Homo sapiens: one gene and its partners. The protein of the gene in region 3 interacts with the protein of the main gene of each other region in a pairwise test. Each region holds a gene or a part of one and is shown on either strand. Other genes may lie near its edges.

Evidence for each region. Proteins that work in one complex are often made in the same cells at the same time.
Region 1: the proteins of RASSF3 (region 3) and FAM110A interact in binary tests that used the Homo sapiens proteins (3 or more experiments, as listed by UniProt).
Region 2: the proteins of RASSF3 (region 3) and TFRC interact in binary tests that used the Homo sapiens proteins (3 or more experiments, as listed by UniProt).

Annotation. Positions count from the first base shown.
Region 1 is NC_000020.11:829,134-836,732, reverse strand, and holds the start of FAM110A (protein FAM110A), read right to left. Parts: upstream 3,019-7,599; 5' UTR 2,782-3,018; intron 681-2,781; exon of another isoform or gene 1-680.
Region 2 is NC_000003.12:196,058,073-196,065,098, reverse strand, and holds part of TFRC (transferrin receptor protein 1), read left to right. Parts: intron 1-670; coding exon 671-790; intron 791-2,159; coding exon 2,160-2,245; intron 2,246-2,453; coding exon 2,454-2,517; intron 2,518-4,851; coding exon 4,852-4,919; intron 4,920-6,466; coding exon 6,467-6,525; intron 6,526-6,733; coding exon 6,734-6,815; intron 6,816-7,026. UniProt on the Homo sapiens protein: Cellular uptake of iron occurs via receptor-mediated endocytosis of ligand-occupied transferrin receptor into specialized endosomes. Endosomal acidification leads to iron release.
Region 3 is NC_000012.12:64,613,480-64,620,505, reverse strand, and holds part of RASSF3 (ras association domain-containing protein 3), read right to left. Parts: intron 1-7,026.

The sequences.
Region 1 (7,599 bases), on a different chromosome or scaffold from region 3:
ATTCCACTTCTGAGTGTATACCCAAAACAATTAAAAACAGGAACTCAAACAGATATTTGTACATTCATGCTCAAAGCAGCATTAGTCACAACAGCCAAAAGCAATCCAAGTGTCCATCAAGGAATGAATGGATAAACAGAATGTGGCATATACATAGAATATTAGAATAGATTATTCCGCCATAAAAAAGAAAATTCTAACACATACAACAACATGGGTGAAACTTAAAGGCATTATGCTAAGTGAAATAAGCCAGACACAACAAGACAAATACTGTTATGATTCCATTTATAATACCTAGAGGTACCCAAAGTAGTCAAATTCACTCAAACAGAAAGTAGAATGGTGATTGCCAGGCACTGGGGGGAGAGGCAATGGGGAATGTACTTAATGCCACTGAACTGTATACTTAAAAGTGGTTACAATGGTAAATTTTATTTTATATACATTTTAATTCATTCACTGCCCCACCCCACCCCCCCCCCCAAAAAATGTAAAATTTAGAGCCAGACTCTCTGGGTTCAAACTCCACCTCTAGGTTATCTTATGCAAATTATTAAACCTCTCTTGTGCTCAGTTTCCCCTCTGCAAGATGGAAATAAGAACAGCAGTAATTACCTTATATCACAGAGTTGAGGGAATTAAATGAGTTCATACTTGTAAAGTACTTAGAACATAGTAAATGCTCAAGAGGTGTTAGTGATTTTTATTCTTTGGTGAGGGGGTGGGAGGTGTGGTTTCCAAAGGTTATAATTTTCATGACATTCTACACCCAACCCGCCCCCTTCCTCCCACCTGCTTCTTTCTTTCCCTTCAGCAGAAGCCTGGCCTAGATTTGGGGAGGCCCTTGCCTGCCCCAGAGGAGATTGGGAAGGCTCCAGGCAGTGGCAAGGGGCCAGCCAGCAGGGCAGCCCCAGCTCAATTTCAGCCCAGCTGTCCAGGTCAGGGACACCCAGCTGGGCCACCTCCAGAGCCACACCAGGCCCTGAGCTATTTCTGGAGGCCTCCCAGACGCTGGTGCCCTGGCCTGCCCAGGAGTCAGCCTTGCTCAGGGTGGCCTTGCACTAACATTAGGAAGGGAGAAGGGAGTAGGCTGTGGAATGGGTGTGGATGTGGACATCTAGGCCCACTGATACCAAGTTGATCTTCTAGGCCTAGGTCTGCACTTGAGGTTGCAAAATGGGGATGAAGGATTTTGCAGTGAGGACAGAATGGAAGATAACACATGCAAGGTCTTGGGGAAGGGCCTGGCACGCAGGATTAGAAAGGGGAGGGGGAGGCAGATCCACAGCCAAGCCCACTTCCTATCCTAGACTGCCCTCTGCCCAGGCCTGAGTGCACCATCATGACTTCTTAGCTCAGCCCAGAGACTGAAGAAACTTACTCAATGTCACAGAGCAACTCAGGGACAGGGCAGTGGTTTCATGATTTATAAATATGCATATATATACACATATATACATATATACACACATACATATATATACATATATGTGTGTGTGTATATATGTGTGTGTGTATATATATATATAGAGAGAGAGAGAGAGAGAGAGAGAGAGAGAGAGAGATGGGAGGACTGCACTTCATGAAGGCTGTGTGAGTTAACCTCCTGCCTGCAGAACACACAAATGGTCCATGAACGTTAGTTTCAGTCTTGATTACTGAGGTTTTGGGCATCCCTAAATTTTGCACTGGCTCAATTGCCTCAGCCCCTGCCTTGCATCACAGTGGGAGAAGATGATACATTTGCTAATAAGTAAAAAAACCAAAACATGCAAGAACCAGAGCAGGGCTTATGAAGTCAATAAATAATATTTGTTGAAAGAATAAAAGAAAGCCTTGTTTTCTTTCTGAGTCCTCGGAGATCCTGTCCCCCAAAGCCAGGGGCAGGCTCCAGAGGAGAGAGGATATGTAACTCCCTTATGAAGAGATTGAAGACTCTCAAAATGCATGATTCTGTGTGTCAAGGATTCTAAGATTGAAGCCAGAGGGACTAGGAGCTAACCACTGCATTGTCTGACTGTGACTTCGAAAAGGGGCTTAACTTCTTAGAACCTCCGTTTCCCCACCTACAAAAGGAGACTGACAATAGCAACCTAGGGGGCAGGGGGTGTCCCCAGGAGACACAGCAGGGTCTGGCCTAGGTCAGCTGCTCCACCTGGGGGGATTCCGGCCCCACTCCCAATTCCAAAGTCTCTGGTGACTAGTGGCTTTGGTTTAGGGACTGGCTCTATTCCCTTCCCCAAACTGGGGATGATTCCCAAGAGGCCAGCAGCGGCTCTGGGGGCTGGAGAATCTGCTGCCCCTGCATCCAGCCCAGAAATGTCAGTCCCGTCCGATCCCCAAAGAGTGGTCCTCTGTCCCCGTAGACAGAAAGGCGCCAAATGAGCCGAGTCCAACCCCGGACTGCGGAGAAGGAAAGACAGACGCCCAAAGGGGGTATCCCGAGGACAGTGTGGGGCGCGGGGATATGTGATCCAGCCAGGGGTCTACAGGTCCCTGCCGATAAAACGCTGGGAAAATGACTACCAGTTGCCCGTCTGGGCCTCTCAAGGCAAGTCCAGATGTGACTAGACTAGGGGGCTGCGAGGTGGGGCAGAAAGACTTGAACTGGATTCTCCGCCAGAGCTCGCCGGGCCGGGACACTTGCCTCTCTGAGCCTCAGAGTCCTCATCTGTGAAATGACACGCAGGTACGACGCGGGGAGAAAGCAGACAGCAGACGCTCGGGGAACGGGGCCCCCAGACCCGGGGTCGCACCCGGACCCACCCGCGCCCTCACCTGGAGCCCGCGCTAGGCGTGTCCCGGCTCCTCTCGCGCAGGCTTTGGAGAGGCTGACAGCTCGGACCCGGGCCGGTAGTGGCCGCTCCCAACGACGCCCAGGAGGCCCCAGCCCCGCGTGGGCACCTTTGGGGTCCCCTTTGGAGCTGCCCTCCGCGGTCGAGCTGAGCGGGTGGCCCTCACTGTCGAAGGCCCCCACCGCAGGGAAAGTCCCTGGGGCGCCGTGGAAGGGGAAGTGAGCACGCCGCCCCCCTTCACACCAGAATGGTTCGCCCCGGACTTCCTGATTGGTTCCTCGCTTCCGTTCGAACGGCGCGCCGCCAGGGTTGCCAGGCGACCGCTTAGCTTCCCCCGCCCGAAGGAGAGGCGCTGCTCAGCAGCTCCGCCCGCTCCTCCCAGCCGGCCCCACCTTCTTCCTGCCGCCGCTTCAGCCCCGGCGCCTGGTTCTTTCCCTTCCTCCTCCTCCCTCCCGCGGCCAGCTGGGACTTCCTCTAGGACCCCAGCTGGAAGAGCTCCAGTTAGAGGGCCCTGGCTGGTTCCTAGTCCTGACTTTGACGCTAACTCCCTATGTGACCCGGTGCAAGCCCCTTCCTTTCTCTGTTCTCCTAACTGCATGATGATGAGTGAGTTAATTTTAAAATGTGCATACCCAGCAGTCCCGAAATTTACAAAGGAAATGACCAAAGATATGAGCAAAGATTAATATTGCTCAGCCTTATTCATCATAGCAAAATAATGGAAACAACTTCAATGCCTCTTGAAAGGGATTGGTTATATAATTCCATCCTGTGGAGGAGCTAACTTAATTGAGCTTTTTGCATGCCGGGTAGCTTTACAGAACAAGTCTTGTCAAGGCTTATGACATAACCCTCTAAAAGTACTTTTAATTATTAACACTTTATTTATTTCTTTATCTTTTTCTTTTCTTTTTTTTTTTTTTTTTTTGAGATGGAGTCTCACTCTGTCGCCCAGGCTGGAGTGCAGTGGCAGGATCTCAGCTCACAGCAGCCTCAATCTCCTGGGGTCAAGCAATCTTCCCACCTCAGCCTCCCAAGTAGCTGGGACTACAGGTGTGCACCACCACACCCGGTATTTTCTGTATTTTTTGTAGGGATGGGGTTTTGCCATGTTGCCCAGACTGATCTTAAACTCCTGAGCTCTAGCAATTCTACCAACTCAGCCTCCCAAAGTACTAGGATTACAGGCATGAGCCACGCCACCTAGCCTAATTTTTCCCACTTTCTGATGAGGAATATTATGCAGCCATTAAAAGTGAAGTAGCTACCAGGAGCAGTGGCTCACACCTGTAATCCCAGCACTTTGGGAGGCTGAGGCGACCAGATCACCTGAAGTCAGGAGTTCAAGACCAGCCTGGCCAACGTGGTGAAACCTCGTCTCTACTAAAAATACAAAAATTAGCCAGGCGTGGTGCCACATGCCTGTAATCCCAGCTACTCAGGAGGCTGAGGCAGGAGAATAGATTGAACCTGGGATGTGGGGGATGCAGTAAGCTGAGATCATGCCACTGCACCCCAACCTGGGCAAGAGATCATCTCAAAAAGATAAAAATAAAAGTGAAGTAGCTAGAAGATATTTAAAGATAGGGGGAAATGCTAAGTATTAAACATTGGTTTATTTATGTTTTTTAGAGACAGGGTCTAGCTCTGTTGCCCAGGGTGGAGTGCAGTGGTGCAATCATAGCTCACTGTAACCTAGGTTGAAGCAATCCTCACACCTCAGCCTCCAGAGTAACTAAGACTACAGGCCCGCATCACCATGTCAAGCTACGGGTCTCGCTATGTTGCCCCAGGCCAGTCTAGAACTCCTGGCCTCAAGTGATCCTCCTGCTTTGGCCTCCTGAATTTCTAGGATTACAGGCATAAGCCAATGCACCCCTCCCAAATTTTTTTGAAGTACAGTATGCTTCAAAACACTATGTACAGCATAAATATGTATTAAATACATATGTATATGTGTATAATCATCTATAATCACAGCAGTTAATTTCTTCTTTGTGTTTTTGTGAATTTTCCAAATTTCCAATACTTGAACATGTCAAAAAAGTATATTTTTAGGGGGATTAGAATGAATTAACTCTAAGGGCCTTTAAGGTGAGGAAATTTTATAGCAGTCAGTCTGAATTGCTCAATTTGGAACCAGCTTCTCTGTTTCATTCCAGCTGGTGTCTTTTATTCTTTGTTTGGATTGCCAATAATTGAGAACTTACTGCGTAAACCCCTGGGTGGGCAGGGGAGGGAGCTAATAATATATCAATAGCTAATAATGATTGTACACTCTGGCATGGACACCAACCAAATCAGAGCCAACCACTGTCATAAACAGGGAGTCTGCTGTATCCGTGAGGACCAGCTAAATATCAATCCTGGCCCTGTGCCCTCTGCTACATTGTGTTAGGGCTTTATACACATCATCTCATTGGACTTCATGACTATCTAAGGCGAGAGATCCTGCTATTATTCCCATTATATAGATGAGAAAACTAAGGTCGGTCTGGATCCAGAATGAATTCTCTGATCCACTCTGTTACATTCCCTTGTAAACATGTGAGAACTGTTTGGGAGTAACAGTGAGGTAAGGCAAGGGGGATCCTGTGATCCTATAAGACACAAGAGAAGATTGAGCAGGTAGCTTCAGCCTAGGGAGACTTCTTTTTTTTTTTTTTTTTTTTTTTTTGAGACAGAGTTTCACTCTTATCGCCCAGGCTGGAATGCAATGGCACGATCTCAGCTCCCTGCAACCTCTGCCTCCCAAGTTCAAGTGATTTTCCTGTCTTAGCCTCCTGAGTAGCTGGGATTACAGGTGCCCGCCACCATACCCGCTAATTTTTTGTATTTTTAGTAGAGACAGGGTTTCAGTATGTTGGTCAGGCTGGTCTTGAACTCCTGACCTCAGGCGATCCACCCACCTCGGCCTCCCAAAGTGCTGGGATTACAGGCGTGAGCCACCACGTCCAGCCCTAGGGAGACCTCTTTAAGAAAAAATTACAGATATGAAATTAAGTAATAAAGTGAAGATTTGGTTAGAAAGAGACAAGAAACCACAATAAGGTGGCTCATGCCTGTAATCCCACCACTTTGGGAGGTCGAGGTGGAAGGAGTGCCTGAGCCCAGGGGCTTCAGACCAGCCTGGGCAACAAAGCGAGATCCCCAGCTCTACAAAAAAATTTTAAAAAGAAATTAGCTGGCCAGGCATGGTGGCTCATACCTGTAATCCTAGCACTTTGGGAGGCCGAGGCTGGTGGATCACCTGAGCTCAGGAGTTTGAGACCAATCTAGACAACATGGCAGAACCTCATCTCTACTAAAAATACAAAAAATTAGCTGGACGTGGTAGTGGGCACCTGTAATCCCAGCTACTTGGGAGGCTCAGCCAGGAGAATCACTTGAATCTGGGAGGCAGAGGTTGCAGTGAGTCAAGATTGTGCCACTGCACTCCAAGCTGGACGACAGTGAGACTCCGTCTCAAAAAAAAAAAAAAAAAAGGAAAAAAGAAATTAGTCAGGCATGGTGGCACGTGCCTATAGTCCCAGCTACTCAGGAGGCTGAGAGGGAGGATTGCTTGAGACCAGGAGGTTGAGGCTGCAGTAAGCCATGATTTCACCACTGCATTCCAGCCTAGATGACAGAGCAAGACCTTGTCTCCAAAAAAAAAAAAAAAAAAAAGAGAAATTGCACAAACGTTACAAAACGCAGAAAAATAACATTCTTTTTATTAGCTGCCTGTCTCAAACACATCTGTAATACTTTCCATAAACTAGCTGCTGGCTCCGTGTATACATTCAAACCTCTCCTTCACAGTCTTGTGGAACTGAGTGCTGTAGGACCATTCATATATCTTGAGATATAACCTCTGATCCTGAATCTTGATGCCACGACAAGTTGAGTCAGCTCAGTATGCTCGGTATGGATATATTCCTGGAAGCCATTTCAATACCAGGTCAGTTAGTAATAATTTTTCACAAAAGTGACTGGAAACAATATAAATATATCCCACTAAACCCAAAGTAAATGTTAAGGTCCTTTTAGCAAGATGCCCAAACTGCTCACACCAACCCCAACATCATCTGATGCAAAGGGAAGTTGGAATGAAAGGAGATAGTGGTTTTAACAGAATGAGGTTAAGATGCCTTACATTGGTAAATTTTACAGAAGCACATGGCCATGTGAACACATCACTAGGGTGCTTCCCAGACCTCAACTTCCCTGTTATTAACCAGGAATGACAACAATGGTGTTGACCAAATTCTTCTCTGAGATATGTAACTTTAATCAGGGTTGGGAGATATTTGAGATACCTGGATAAAGGCCCTGCTCACTGACCCTTGCGTCTTCAAGTTTGCCTCTGCCATGCACAGCCGAGAGCTTAAAATTAGACAAAACAAAAACCGAGAGGCCCATTCCTAGATTGAGAAAGTGAGGCAGAGGGCAGAAGGAACTTGTCAGGATCCCAAATTAGGCCATGTAAAGAGAGATCATCTGGGCGCACTCAGATTCTAGAATTGTGGGCATCTTTATGTGCCAACAGCATATTGGTCTTCTATTTTCAGGACTATATTAAGCACCTGGTGCCAATTCAGAGTATTCAAGTCCTCCCAGTCCTTCTCCTCCCCCACCATGGGGAGTGGTGAGAGAGAAGAAAAAGGCGGATAAACTGTCATTAACTACACCCAGATCAGAGAGAACTGGGCGGTCTGTATGGCCTTATCCTGACCCAGCACATGAGCAATGATAACATCTCGCCTTGTTGACAGGCCTATGGCTGGTTCTGCGTGTGGGTTTTGCCTCCTTCAGAACGTTG
Region 2 (7,026 bases), on a different chromosome or scaffold from region 3:
TAGAGACAGGGTTTCTCCATGTTGGTCAGGCTCCATGAGGTCAGAGCTCCTGACCTCAGGTGATCTGCCTCCCTCAGCCTCCCAAAGTGCTGGGATTACAGGCATGAGCCACCGCGCCCAGCCTATGTGTCAGTTTTATTGGGAGGTAATAAGGCCCTAGGAAATTCTTGTTAAAAATTGACCATTATGACTAGAAAATCTATTCTAAGTTATTGACTAGACCAGTGATAAGCAAATTTCTTAAGGGGGCAGATAATAAACCTTTTGCCAGGCTATACAGTCTCTCTTTTAGCTGTTCAACTCTGTGGGAGCAAGAAAACAGGCACAGACTGTGCGTAGTGAATGGGCATGCGGGCTGTAGTTTGCCAGTCCCTGGAGTTAACTTTAAATGCAATCAAACAGCCAACACTTACTAAGAAATAAGTCCTTGGACTTAAGTAGTCAGTAAATTTAATTAGTAGTGTAGGAAAAAAGTAGCTCTACTAGTAAGGTAAAATTAATATTCTCATGTGAATTTTTAATTCCCAGAGTTTTTAGTCAGATTTGAAGTAAGGCTCTTTTATCCTTAATACATATACTGTGCTTTTACCTTTCTACTGATGTGCTAATTCTAGAAAAGTTTAGAAGCTGATTATATAAGTTCTTTCTTCCTCTTTTTTCTTTTTTAAAGATCACTATGTTGTAGTTGGGGCCCAGAGAGATGCATGGGGCCCTGGAGCTGCAAAATCCGGTGTAGGCACAGCTCTCCTATTGAAACTTGCCCAGATGTTCTCAGATATGGTCTTAAAAGGTAGAGTACAAATTTTGATTCTTTTGAATATTGGTGCACTGCATACAGTTCTAGATGTTATACTGTGCTTTGCTCACTTTGCCTGCATTCCTGTGGTTCTCATGCTAGACTCTAGTTCTTAAATACAAGGCAGATTGTCTTTTGTTGTAGCTGCCTTTTCCTTTGAAACAGCTTTCCATAAAGTGTCTTAACTGTGCTAGAAATCACCAGTTTCTTTGAGACAGTGGAGTTACTGAGCCCTAGTGCTTAGTGTGGTGGATCCAGAGTGATAAGGTGGATCATAGTCCCTAAGCAATCTATTTGAAAGCAGTAGCATACCTCTCTACTCATGTACTGAGGCCTAACAGCTATTGAAATTTTGTTCTGTTTATTCATTTATTCATTTTTTGAGACAGAGTTTCACTCTGTTGCCCAGGCTGGAGTGCAGTGGTGTGATCTCACTTAGCTCACTGCAACCTCTGCCTCCCGACTTCAAGCAATTCTCCTGCCTCAGCCTCCTGAGTAGCTGGGATTACAGGCACCCACAACCACACCCGGCCAATTTTTGTATTTTTACTAGAGACAGGGTTTCGCCATGTTGGCCAGGCTAGTCTCCTGACCTCAAGTGATTCACCCGCCTCAGCCTCCCAAAATGCTGCTAGTGAGCCACCGTGCCCTGCCTCTTTTGTTTATTTTTGAGCCTTTCTGTCCTACTTTCCACTCTTTCACACTCCTACCCACCCACACATTCAAAATCACGTCACATTCTTGAATCTTTGGGTCTTAGGGCAAACTGCAATGCTTAACTTTAATACAGAGTACATTAATGGAGAAAAAGATACAGTGAGGGAAGTGGGAGGGATGGAGGGCAGTGTGATACATGTAACCTCAAAAGGTGCTGTCACAAATATAGTTTCTCTGCAAACTCTTCTTGTAACTTAAATTTGTGAATTTTTATTTTATTTTAGAATTATTTTTTTAAAAATCCAATGTTTGGATTTACCTCTGAAGATTTTTCTCAAGATGTGCATCATCATGCTTACACTGTTTTCAATGATCTCTGGGTCCAGAAGTTAAGGAACTCCAAGAATGAAATTGTGAAAGGGTGACTACTGGCCCCTGCTATGTACTCAAAATCTTATTTGCAGATCTCCTATCTTGCTCTTTGTAGGTTACTTTAAAAAAAATTATTCCTATTCTTTTATTCTTTTACCTGGGGTCTCAAAAAAAGATTTTGTTAGTTTTTTTTTTCTTTTTTGGCTCAGAAAAAAAAGATTTTGGAATCTGCTATCTTGGAATTAGACCTTCTGATTCATCTTAAGTGGGATACCTTCCATCCTTGTCTGTGTATAACCTTTCCTCAGGTAAAGCTAACTTTTTTCTCTTTCAGATGGGTTTCAGCCCAGCAGAAGCATTATCTTTGCCAGTTGGAGTGCTGGAGACTTTGGATCGGTTGGTGCCACTGAATGGCTAGAGGTATTCTTTATCATCCCTTCCCATATTGGACACGAGCTTGTGGGCTTAGGCTGTTGTCCAGAAGTGATGTTTTTATAGGTTTGATTTTACCACTTTTGCCTTTGCGTTTAGTCTCAGTAGAGTCCAGAATTGAAAATGAATCCCTAATGCTACTGTATGTGATAAATAAACAGATTTATACTTATTAGTGTTTTCCCTTCTCTTCTAGGGATACCTTTCGTCCCTGCATTTAAAGGCTTTCACTTATATTAATCTGGATAAAGCGGTTCTTGGTAAGTATCCCTTTCATTAGCTGTGTATGAATTCAGGTAAACTTTTTTGAGATGGAGTTTTGCTCTTGTCGCCCAGGCTGGAGTGCAATGGCACGATCTCGGCTCACTGCAACCTCTGTCTCCCAGATTCAAGCGATTCTCCTGCCTTAGCCTCCTGAGTAGCTGGGATTACAGGTGCTCACTACCACACCCAGCTAATTTTTTGTATTTTTAGTAGAGACAGGGCTTCACTATGTTGGCCAGGATGGTCTCGAACTCCTGACCTCAGGCGATCTGCCTGCCTCGGCCTGGGATTACAGATGTGGGCCACTGTGCCTGGCCAGATAAACTACTTTGAAGTGGAAGAAAGCTTTTTTTTTTTTTTGAGACAGGGTCTCACTGTATTGCCCAGGCTAGAGTGCAGTGGCACAATCTTGGCTCACTGCAGCCTTGACCTCCTGGGCTCAGGTGATCCTCCCACTTCAGCCACCTGGCTAATTTTTTTTGTAGAGATGGGGTTTTGCCATGTTGCCCAGGCTGGTGTCAAACTCCTGAGTTCAAGCATTCTATGTCAGCTGCCCAAAATGCTGCGGTTACAGGCATGAGCCATTGCCCTCAGCCTGTATCTTAACCTTCCTTTAAATAGTCTGTCAAGTTACACAGTGAGCACAATTGCTTGTCTAGAACAGTGGGTAGTTCTCAGTGTGGCCCCCAGATGAGTAGCATTAGGAACTGTTACGAATGCAAACTGTCATGTCTACCCCAGACCTTTGAGTCAGAAATGGGAGTGTTGGTCTAAAAACTGGGCTTTTTGGGCTGGGCGCAGTGGTGCACGCCTGTAATCCCAGCACTTGGGAGGCCAAGGCAGGCGGATCACCTGAGGTCAGGAGTTCGAGACCAGCCTGGCCAACATGGTGAAACCCCGTCTCTACTAAAAATACCAAAATTAGCCGGGTGTGGTGGCGAGTACCTGTAATCCCAGCTACTCAGGAGGCTGAGGTAGGAGAATCACTTGAACCCGGGAGGCAGAGGTTGCAGTGAGCCAAGATGGCGCCATTGCCCTCCAGCCTGGGCGACAGAGCGAGACTCCATCTCAAAAAAACAAACAAAAAAACTGGGCTTTTTTTTTGGCAACCCTTGGGGAATAAAAACCTATTATTTTCTTAAGGACAAAGTATCCTGAAGCAAAAAAACCCAAACAAAGAAACAAAAAACTTTAACAAGCACTACAGGTAATTCTGATGGACTAAAGTTTTAGGACCATAAGTCTGGACTATATTGAGGTGAGAAGAAACTAAACTATGCCATATAGAATGGTACTTAGAGAGTAATTCACATCCTGTTACGTTGTGGCATCACTGATAGAAATATTGGATAATGAAACTTCTAGAAGAGTTTGAATGTTCACTGGCAGCAGAAAATTGACAAAAGGGTTTGAATGTTATTTAAAGTGCAGCTGTACATTCAACAGGAATGGGGTAAAAAAGAAAGTGCAGATGTAGCTGATGAGCTGAGAATAGTGAAATGTCTACATGGGGGAAAAAAGGAAAGAGTTACAATTAAACCTCTCTAGGTTAGTTATTTCCCTGTTGTATGTTTGCCGCAGAATGTGCTGAGTATAGCAAGCATACTATGTATAGCTCTAACCTGGGTGAACCAGAAAGTTAAACATGAAATTGCTAATGGGGGAGGCTGCACATGTGTGGGGGCAGTGGATTTATGGGACCTCTAGGTACCTTTCTCTTAATTTTGCTGCTGAACCTAAAACTGGTCTGATTTTTTTTTTTTTTTTTTTTTTTTTTTTTGAGATGGAGTCTCGCTTTGTCACCCAGGCTGGAGTGCAGTGGCGCCATCCCAGCTCACTGCAAGCTCCGCCTCCCGGGTTCATGCCATTCTCCTGCCTCAGCCTCCCGAGTAGCTGGGACTACAGGTGCCCGCCACCACACCCGGCTAATTTTTTGTATTTTTAGTAGAGACGGGGTTTCACTGTGCCAGCCAAGATGGTCTCGATCTCCTGACCTTGTGATCCACCCGTCTGGGCCTCCCAAAGTCCTGGGATTACAGGCGTGAGCCACCGTGCCCGGCCTAACTGCTCTGATATTTTTAAAAAAGGTGACTTGGATTAAAGTATGCAAACTCAAGGAGTAGTACGAGCCCACTTGAGTGAAGTTAGCTTAGTTGCTAAAGAGCTTGATACCAAAATTACTTTTGTTTACTTGATGAATGGGATAGTTGTTGCACAGGGCCACTGATCTAGATTACTGTCTTATTTGTCAAGTACTTATAGTTGTAGAAGTAGCAGTGTGAAAATTATCGGAATGGAGAAGGGGCAATGATAAAACAATTTATTTTCAGGTACCAGCAACTTCAAGGTTTCTGCCAGCCCACTGTTGTATACGCTTATTGAGAAAACAATGCAAAATGTGAGTATATACCTCATTACAAAAATGTATGACTTAATTTTTGTTGAATCAACCTGAGATAAAAAACACTGATATGTAAACCGTAGTCAGTAACAAAAAATAGGAATTGAGAATAAATTTTATAGCAGCGTTATTTAAGGGATACTTGCCTATTGAACCATATGAGATGAGGGCTCCAATCTTAAAGAATATGTTGTTTATTTAGGAATATATAACAAAATGCCATGAGGCCTAAGCTGTAGTGCAGGGGCCCACAGGGGATTGTCTATAGAGTCACAATGCTAAGGAAGGCTTAAATCAACTTGAACTATACTTTGAGAAGGCCGGAGGAAATATTCATTGAATAAACAATTACCATAGTTTTGAATGAGGGAGAGCATGTGAAAGAAAATATTTGCCTATGTGGGGTGGGGGGAGGGGAGAGGGATAGCATTGGGAGATATACCTAACGCTAGATGACGAGTTAGTGGGTGCAGTGCACCAGCATGGCACATGTATACATATGTAACTAACCTGCACAATGTGCACATGTACCCTAAAATTTAAAGTATAATTAAAAAAAAAATAAATAAATAAATAAAAAAGAAAATATTTGCCTAATGGGATTAGAGGCTGTATATTGGAGTGAGTAAAGTTAGAAACAGGTCAGATAGCAGACATTGGCCTTGATCCAAGAGATACTAGGGATTATAGGATCTCAAGCAAGGTGATCATGAATTTGCCAGTTAGGTTGGTGGCATAAGATGCACTAGAAGGAAGAAACCAGAAACAAGATAGGCATAGTGTGAAGCCCAGAGAGGGCTTTTACAATTGTGGGTAAGCCACCATGGTTTTGTTTGTTTGTTTGTTTGTTTTTGAGATGGAGTCTTCCTCTGTCTTCCTCCAGCACTCAGGCTGGAGTGCAATGGTGCGATCTTGGCTCACTGCAGCCTCCACCTCCTGGGTTCAAGCGATTCTCCTGCCTCAGCCTCCTGAGGAGCTGGGACTACAGGTGCACACCACCACACCTGGCTAATTTTTGTATTTTTAGTAGAGACGGGGTTTCACCATGTTGGCCAGGATGGTCTCAATCCCTTGACCTCATGATCTCTTGACCTTGGCCTCCCAAAATGCTGGGATTACAGGTGTGAGCCACCGCGCCCAGCTTTTATTCATTTTTTTTTCCTTTTTTTTTTTTAAGAGATAAAGTCTTGCTGTGTTGCCCAGGCTAGTCTCAAACTTCTGGGCTCAAGTGATCCTCCCAGCTCGGCCTCCCAAAGTGTTGGGATTGCAGTTGTGAACTACCCCACCCGGCCTAGGCCCACTTTTAAAATGTTAATTAAGAAGAAAACATTTTTTCCTCACCATAACTAAAGGAACTGACAACATGAGCCTAGTTAGTAATAACTTAAAGTTGAGATTGTTTTAACTATCATAAATAATTTCTTTTCAAGAAGATATAATACAAGTTTTTTATTTAAAAATTGTTATAGAGTAACATGTTAGTGACTAGCCTGAATAAATAAGTTCCAAAAGGTTAGTTTTAATGATAATTTCTTATCTTACAGGTGAAGCATCCGGTTACTGGGCAATTTCTATATCAGGACAGCAACTGGGCCAGCAAAGTGTAAGTTGAGAAAAGTGAATGAACAAACTAATAGAAAAGCAGAGATTCTACCTACTACATTAGGTAGAATCTAAATCTGTCCTTGCATTGAACTTACTTACACCTAAAGATATTCAGCTAAAGAATTTATTTTGGATGGGGGGACTAGCACGATAGAACAGTCTATTCTTTAAAACACTTTCTAAAGACACATTCTTTGTCTTTGCAGTGAGAAACTCACTTTAGACAATGCTGCTTTCCCTTTCCTTGCATATTCTGGAATCCCAGCAGTTTCTTTCTGTTTTTGCGAGGTAAGTCTGTTCATTTAAATGACAAATGGAGAGAGGCTCTCTAAAAGGAAGTGATCTGTATTTGGGAATAGGGCATTGCAATGGGAATGCCTGTGCTATAGTCAACTATGTACATATTCAGAGGAGTAAAGGAAAACAAGTTTTTAAGGACAAATGACGAGGATTACAAAATTACTTTGAGGTAATTATTCTTGGCTACCAAGATCAATAA
Region 3 (7,026 bases):
ATTAAAAACAGAATTACCATATGATTCTATAGCAACTGTTACTTATGGGTATATATCGCAAAAAGTTTTAAGAGGGGTCTTTAAGAGATATTTGTACACCCCTGTTCACAGCATCATTATTCACATGAGCCAAAAGGTGGAAGCAATCCTAATGTCTATGGAAGAATCAATGGATAAACAAAAAGTGATATATACATACAATGGATATATTATTCAGCCTTTAAAAGGAAGGAAATTCTGACACATACTCCAACATGAATAAATCTTGATGACATCAAGCTAAGTAAACTAAGCCAGTTACAAAAAAACAATTACTACACAAATTCACTTATCTAGACTAGTCAGACGAACCTATATACGCCCCCCATGAAGGCAGGTTTCAATCTGTTTCGTTCACCACCAAATCTCTAGCACTTAGTCTAGCATCATTGTGAATATTCAATACTTGAAAAATGAATTCAGAAAACTACACACACACACACACACACACAGTCAACCTGCACTAATTTCTTTTTTTTTTTTTTTTGATATAAAGTCTCACTCTGTTGCCCAAGCTGGAGTGCAGTGGCGCAATCTCGGCTCACCACAACCTCCACCTCCCAGGTTCAAGCGATTCTCCTGTCTCAGCCTACCGAGTAGCTGGGAGTACAGGCATGCACCACCATGCCTGCCTAATTTTTGTATTTTTAGTAGAGACGGGGTTTCACTATATTGGCCAGGTTAGTCTTGAACTCCCGACCTCGTGATCCGCCCGCCTTGGCCTCCCAATGTGCTGGGATTACAGGCGTGAGCCACCACGCCTGGCAACCTGCACTAATTTTAAGTGAACTCTTTGCTGACTATATTCTAAGTCCGTTAACTCCAAGATCTTCTAAATCCATCCTTCTGGTCTCCAATTCCCAAACTCACCCTTTTTCCTCCTCTAATTATCTCACCTTGTTTAGCATCTGGAAAAAGAACCAAGTGAGGCAATATATAATTAGTAAATTATTCTTAGCTGACTGAATCATGTAGCAGCAGTTAGCAATTACAGTCCACAAAATGCAAAATATTAAGCTTGCTCCTTTAATACTCTATGAAACATGAGCCCTCTTCTGTCCTTAAACTGAAGGCAGAGTTGCACCGAGAATGCCATTAGGTCAGTTTTATCTTATTGGCTCATGTGGAAAAAAAAAAGGGAAGTTCCCCACACAAAAGTTTCACAACCCCAAAATGCTGGTATGTGTGTCCCTGGATAGGCTGAGAAGAAACTATCCCCAACAGTAAAGGGCAAGTTCCCCTTCACAAAGAAAAATCTTCCCAACACACCAGGCTGGTACCCCCACATCCATCCATCTGCAGCCACCAAGACAATGGAGATTCAAACCTCTGGCAAGGGCTGCCAGCCCTGCTTCAGCAAACAGCATTGTTCAACAAAAATATCATGCGAGCCACATGCATAATTTTAAGTTTTCCATAGCCATGCTAAAAAATAAGTAACATTAAATTTACTTAACTCAAATATTATCGAATATTATCATTTCAACATGTAATTGCAATTTTTTAATTATCATATTTTACATTCTTTCTTTTTTTTTATTATTATACTTTAAGTTTTAGGGTACATTTCTAATCTTCAAAATCCAGTGTGTATTTTTCACAGCAATCTCAATCAGACTAGCCACGTTTCGATTGCTTAAAAACTACATGTAGCTAGTGACTACTGTATTGTACAGCACAGTTTTAGAATGGTCACTTCTATCTCAGAATATATTTTCTGATTTGTTACTTAAGTTTTTACATATATTTCAAATACTCATCATTTTTTATGGGTTCTGACATCCTTCCTAGAGCATTATCTGGCCCTCTCCATTTAAAAAAAACAAAAACAAAAACAAAAGGCCGGGCGTGGTGGCTCACGCCTGTAATCCCAGCACTTTGGGAGGCCAAGGAGGGCAGATCATGAGGTCAGGAGTTTGAGACCAGTCTGGCCAACATGGTATAACCCCGTCTCTACTTTAAAAATACAAAAATTAGCCGGGGATGGTGGCATGCCCCTGTAATCCCAGCTACTTGGGAGGCTGAGGCAGGAGAATTGCTTGAACCCAGGAGGTGGAGGTTGCAGTGAGCCGAGATCACGCCACTGCACTCCAGCCTGGGCAACAGATCAAGACTTGTCTCAAAAAAAATAAAAATAAAATTAAGCAAACAAAAGCTATTTGACAACACTACTGATAGCCAAACCAGAACTACCTGTTTAAACTATTAAGAAAAACCTGGAATACTCAGGAGGCTAAGGCAGGAGGATCATGTGGGCCCAGGAGTTCGAGGCTATAGGGCACTATTATCATGCCTGTGAATAACAATTGCATTTTAGCTTGGGCAACATAGCAAGATCCCATCTCTTTAAAAATGAAAAAAGAAAAGAAAAAAGAGACCTGGAAAATAAACCAAATTTGATTTGGTTAATTTTGGTTAACATTTTGGTGAATTAACCAGTTTGGTTAACGCTGGTTGAAGTTATTTAAAAAACATTTTCTAACCTTGAAGATGATTACGTTTCTGTTGGAAGACAGTCATCAATAAGGAAATGTGATTGTTTTACACAGGGACGTAAAACAGGAAGTGATACACTTCCACGTCAACATTCCCATCTAAACAGATGTATAGGGCCGGGCACGGTAGCTCATTCCTGTAATCCCAGCACTTTGGGAGGCCGAGGCGGGCAGATCACAAGGTCAGGAGTTCAAGACCAGCCTGGCCAATATGGTGAAACCCCATCCCTACTAAAAATATAAAAAATTAGCCCCATGTGGTGGCACGCACCTGTAATCCCAGCTACTGGGGAGGCTGAGGCAGGGGAATTGCTTGAACCCAGGAGGCAGAGGTTGCGGTGAGTGGAGATCGCATCATTGTACTCCAGCCTGGGTGACAGAGCAAGACTCCGTCTCAACCAATCAATCAATCAATGTATAGCTTTACCACACTACAAAATAGGTGTGTTCCTGAAAAACTACATTTCAAAGTTTCCTCAAATACACTAAAGGAGCAAGCTCTTTAGGGAAAAATTAGAGAGATATTTTCATTTGCCTATTGGGTAAGCTTTTTAAAAACATTGCCAAAAGAGGCCAGGGACTGTGTATTGTTCACCACCCTAACCCCAGAGGTTAGAACAGTATCTGGCACATAGGAGGCACACAATAAATTGTCAACTAAATATATTAATGAATAAATGATGAGTTTTCTTAAAACAAGGGGAAAGTATATAAAGTGAGTTATGCTTAACCAGTAATCACAGATATTACCAATATCATCCCATTTTAAATCACTACTACCTGTAAGATACTGTGAAGGCTTATGGTCTAGTTTGGAAAGGGGGAGACATTGTGTACATTTGTGTATAAAGGAAAACTAACAGTACCAAATACTGGGACATCCATCCAAAATGAGCAGGCTTTCATTTGTTCAAGCACCTTAAGTGCCAAGCATTTATATTATGTAGTAGGTAAAAAATGCTAGTCTCTGTCCTCATTAAACAAAATATAATGATAAATTATAATTTTTGCTATGAAGGGAAAGAACAGCGGGCTTTAAGACTTTTCTGAGTCGACATGTTAAGGAGAATGGAGGGCGGCAACTCCAGGCCATGGTTCTGAGATGGCGATGGGGCCTGAAAGGAATTAAAGAGAAGGCTAATATTGTTGGAGTCCTAAAAGCTCTTACATCACAGGGTGAACAATAAGCGGGGCCTTGTAATAGAGGTAATGCCTGCTTGCCATGAGAATAAAAACTTCCTACAAGGCAAATGTGTGTAGCTCTTCAAACAGAGGAAGATGCAAAGAGGCTAAGTTAGCCAAGACTTGTCATATAGAAGAGAAGCTCCTTTGCATGCATTTATCATATATCCTACTGTCTTTTCACCATCCCCTCTGAAGAGGGACTGCTAGCCAATGGCCTTTGGCCAAATTAGGAGTGAAATACACGTTTCAAACTGGGGCCTTTATTGAAAGACAGCTACTTATGCTTGGAGACTTGGGGGTGGAAAATGCGAGGGCTAATGCCCAGGGCTAAGAGTTGGTGATCAGGCCACACTAGAAAGTATTTGGTCAGACTCAGTTTTTTTTTCTCCCAGAAAAAGAATGTTAACCGTATGACATGCACTGACTGCCAAAGGAAGTCTAAAAAGAATAACCACATTATTGGATATTTTTAGCCTTTCTTTTCAAAAATGTTTTGTGTCACTGCTTTCCAAATAATTCCAAATCTTGTGAGTTGGCCAGAAGAAGAAATGGGATAAGGAGTATACTACTCAAATATGAGGCTTTATAGGACTGGAAACTTTTTCTTCTGAAATTCATTTAAAGGAATATGCCTTTGTGAATCTTGCTCACACAAACACAAAATTCCAATGGATTAATATCGTGTAAGAACAGAACATATCAGACATGCAGAAAAGATGTGTAAATCACCTTGCCCTAGGCAAAATGTCTGGTGAAAATGTTTATGCCCCATAATACGGGAATTAAAAATCAGCATTTAAAAAGCTAGTATAGGCCAGGAGTGGTGGCTCACACCTGTAATCCTAGCACTGTGGGAGGCCGAGGTGGGTGGATCACCTGAGGTCAGGAGTTTGAGACCAGTTTGCCCAACATGGTGAAAGCCCGTCTCTACTAAAAATACAAAAAATTAGCCAGGCACTGTGGCGGGAGCCTGTAATCCCAGCTACTCGGGAGGCTGAGGCAGGAGAATCATTTGAACCCAGGAGGCAGATGTTGCAGAGCCGAGATCACACCACTGCACTCCAGCCTGGGTGACAAAAGCGAAACTCCGTCTCAAAAAAAAAAAAAGAAAAAGGCTAGTAGAGTCAAAATACCTATTATGTCATAAACCACTATTCTTTTACCCCAGTGATCTAGCTCTAAACTTCTAATGGAAACACTAATAAAAGAGTGCAGCTCATTACTGTTGATTCTAGCAATAAGACACAACCAAATAATTGAGGCACAAAAATATTTGAATAAGAAAGAGAAAACCGAAAGGGTGAAGTTGAGGCCTGCTATGGGGAGTCTAATAGACTTACTTACTGAAGTAAAATTCTTCAGCGCAATTTTTTTTAAAGTGTGGGTTGTTCAGAAGACAATTTCACGTTTCTCAAGACTTCTTGACTACCCTACTTCTAAAGCAAAAATACTGTCTCATTTCCTTATTCCCATGAACTACCAAAGGCTCAGGAGGAGAGGTAGCTTAGCTAAGAGGTAAGACACACTCTGACAGATTATAACTTTAGACCATTTCTATTCTTTGGAAATCTGAATGTGTCCTGTATTTACAGGTAGTTTGATTTTGGTGGGAAATCAAGAAGGCAAATAATAAATTACACAACTGTCCACATTTTTGGTTTTGCTGAAAACAATGATTAGGTGGATCCTTTGAAACACAGCGAATCCACAAATACGTGAATCCACAAATACAAATTATAAACACTGTCATGACTATATGCAGGTCAGGGAGTTGAAATTTTAAGAAACAGCCAGGCGCGGTGGCTCATGCCTATAATCCCAGCACTTTGGGAGGCCAAGGAGGGCAGATCACTTAAGGTCAGAAGTTCAAGACCAGCCTGGCCAACATGGCAAAACCCCATCTAGACTAAAATACAAAAAAAAAAGCCAGGCCTGGCAGCGGGTGCCTGTAATCCCAACTACTCAGGAGGCTGAGGTATGAGAATCAATTGATCCTGGGAGATGGAGGTTGCAGTGAGCCAAGATCCTGCCACTGCACTCCAGTCTGGGTGACACAGTAAGAATCTATCTCAAAAAAAAAAAAAAAAGAAAAGAAAAGAAATTTTAAGAAACTCTTAAATTTTAGGTGTCCTTATTTGCAAAGGGAATATGGAGCCATAAAATTATTTTTATAGCTAAAAAGTAACAAAATAGAGAGTGTAATTTGAGTCTGAAAACCTGAGTTCCAGCCTTCTTGCTATCTAGGTGTGGGCCTTATACAATCACTAAATAATACCTCCCCCTTTCATTAAGTTAATGTTTCATACAGTTTTTGGGAGCACCATAAGATACAGTACATTTGAAAATGGTAAAGATCAGGGGCCAGGTGCGGTGGCTCACGCCTGTAATCCCAGCACTTTGGGAGGCCGAGGCGGGCAGATCACCTGAGGTCAGGAATTCAAGACCAGCCTGGCCAACATGGTGAGACCCCGTCTCTACTACAAAATTTAGCTGGATATGGTGGCAGGTGCCTGTGATCCCAGCTACTCGGGAGGCTGAGGCAGGAGAATCGTTTGCACGCGGGAGACGGAGGTTGCAGTGAGCCGAGATCACGCCATTGCACTCCAGCCTGGGCAACAAGAGTGAAACTCCATCTCAAAAAAAAAAAAAAAAAGAAATGGTAAAGACCCAGTTACTATCAAATCAGGAAAACATTCATTCATTCAGCTTGCATTCACTGAGCAACTACTGTATATCAGGTACTGATCGAGACCCTGCGGATACAATAAACATGACATTCAAACTGCCACAAAACGTCATATGTTCGTTCCCTTTATATCTTTTAGACAGTTTTGTTTTTGAGACAGGGTCTCGCTCTGTTGCCCAGGCTGGAGTGCAGTGGTGCGATCACAGCTCACTGCAACCTCTGCCTCCCGGCCTTAAGCAATGCTCCCACCTCAGTCTCCCGAGTAGCTGGGACTACAGGCGAGCACCACCATGCCTGACTAATTTTTGCATTTTTTTTGTAGAGACAGGGTTTCACCATGTTGTCCAGGCTGGTCTCAAACTCCTGGGCTCAAGCAATCCTCCCATCTCAGCCTCCCAAAGTGCTGGAATTACAGGCATGAGCTACCACACGTGGCCTAGACAGGTTTTTTAACCCTTTTCCATTTTTGTTGTTGTTCTTGTTGTTAAGAATGGGGTTTAAAGTAAGAAAAAAAATGAAAACATTTTCTTTATAAGGTTTTTGTTACTGTTGGGGATAGAAAGAAGTTGCACTATGTTCCCTTGCCTGGCAAGAGAAGAAAGAAATTTCCAGTCCACCCGC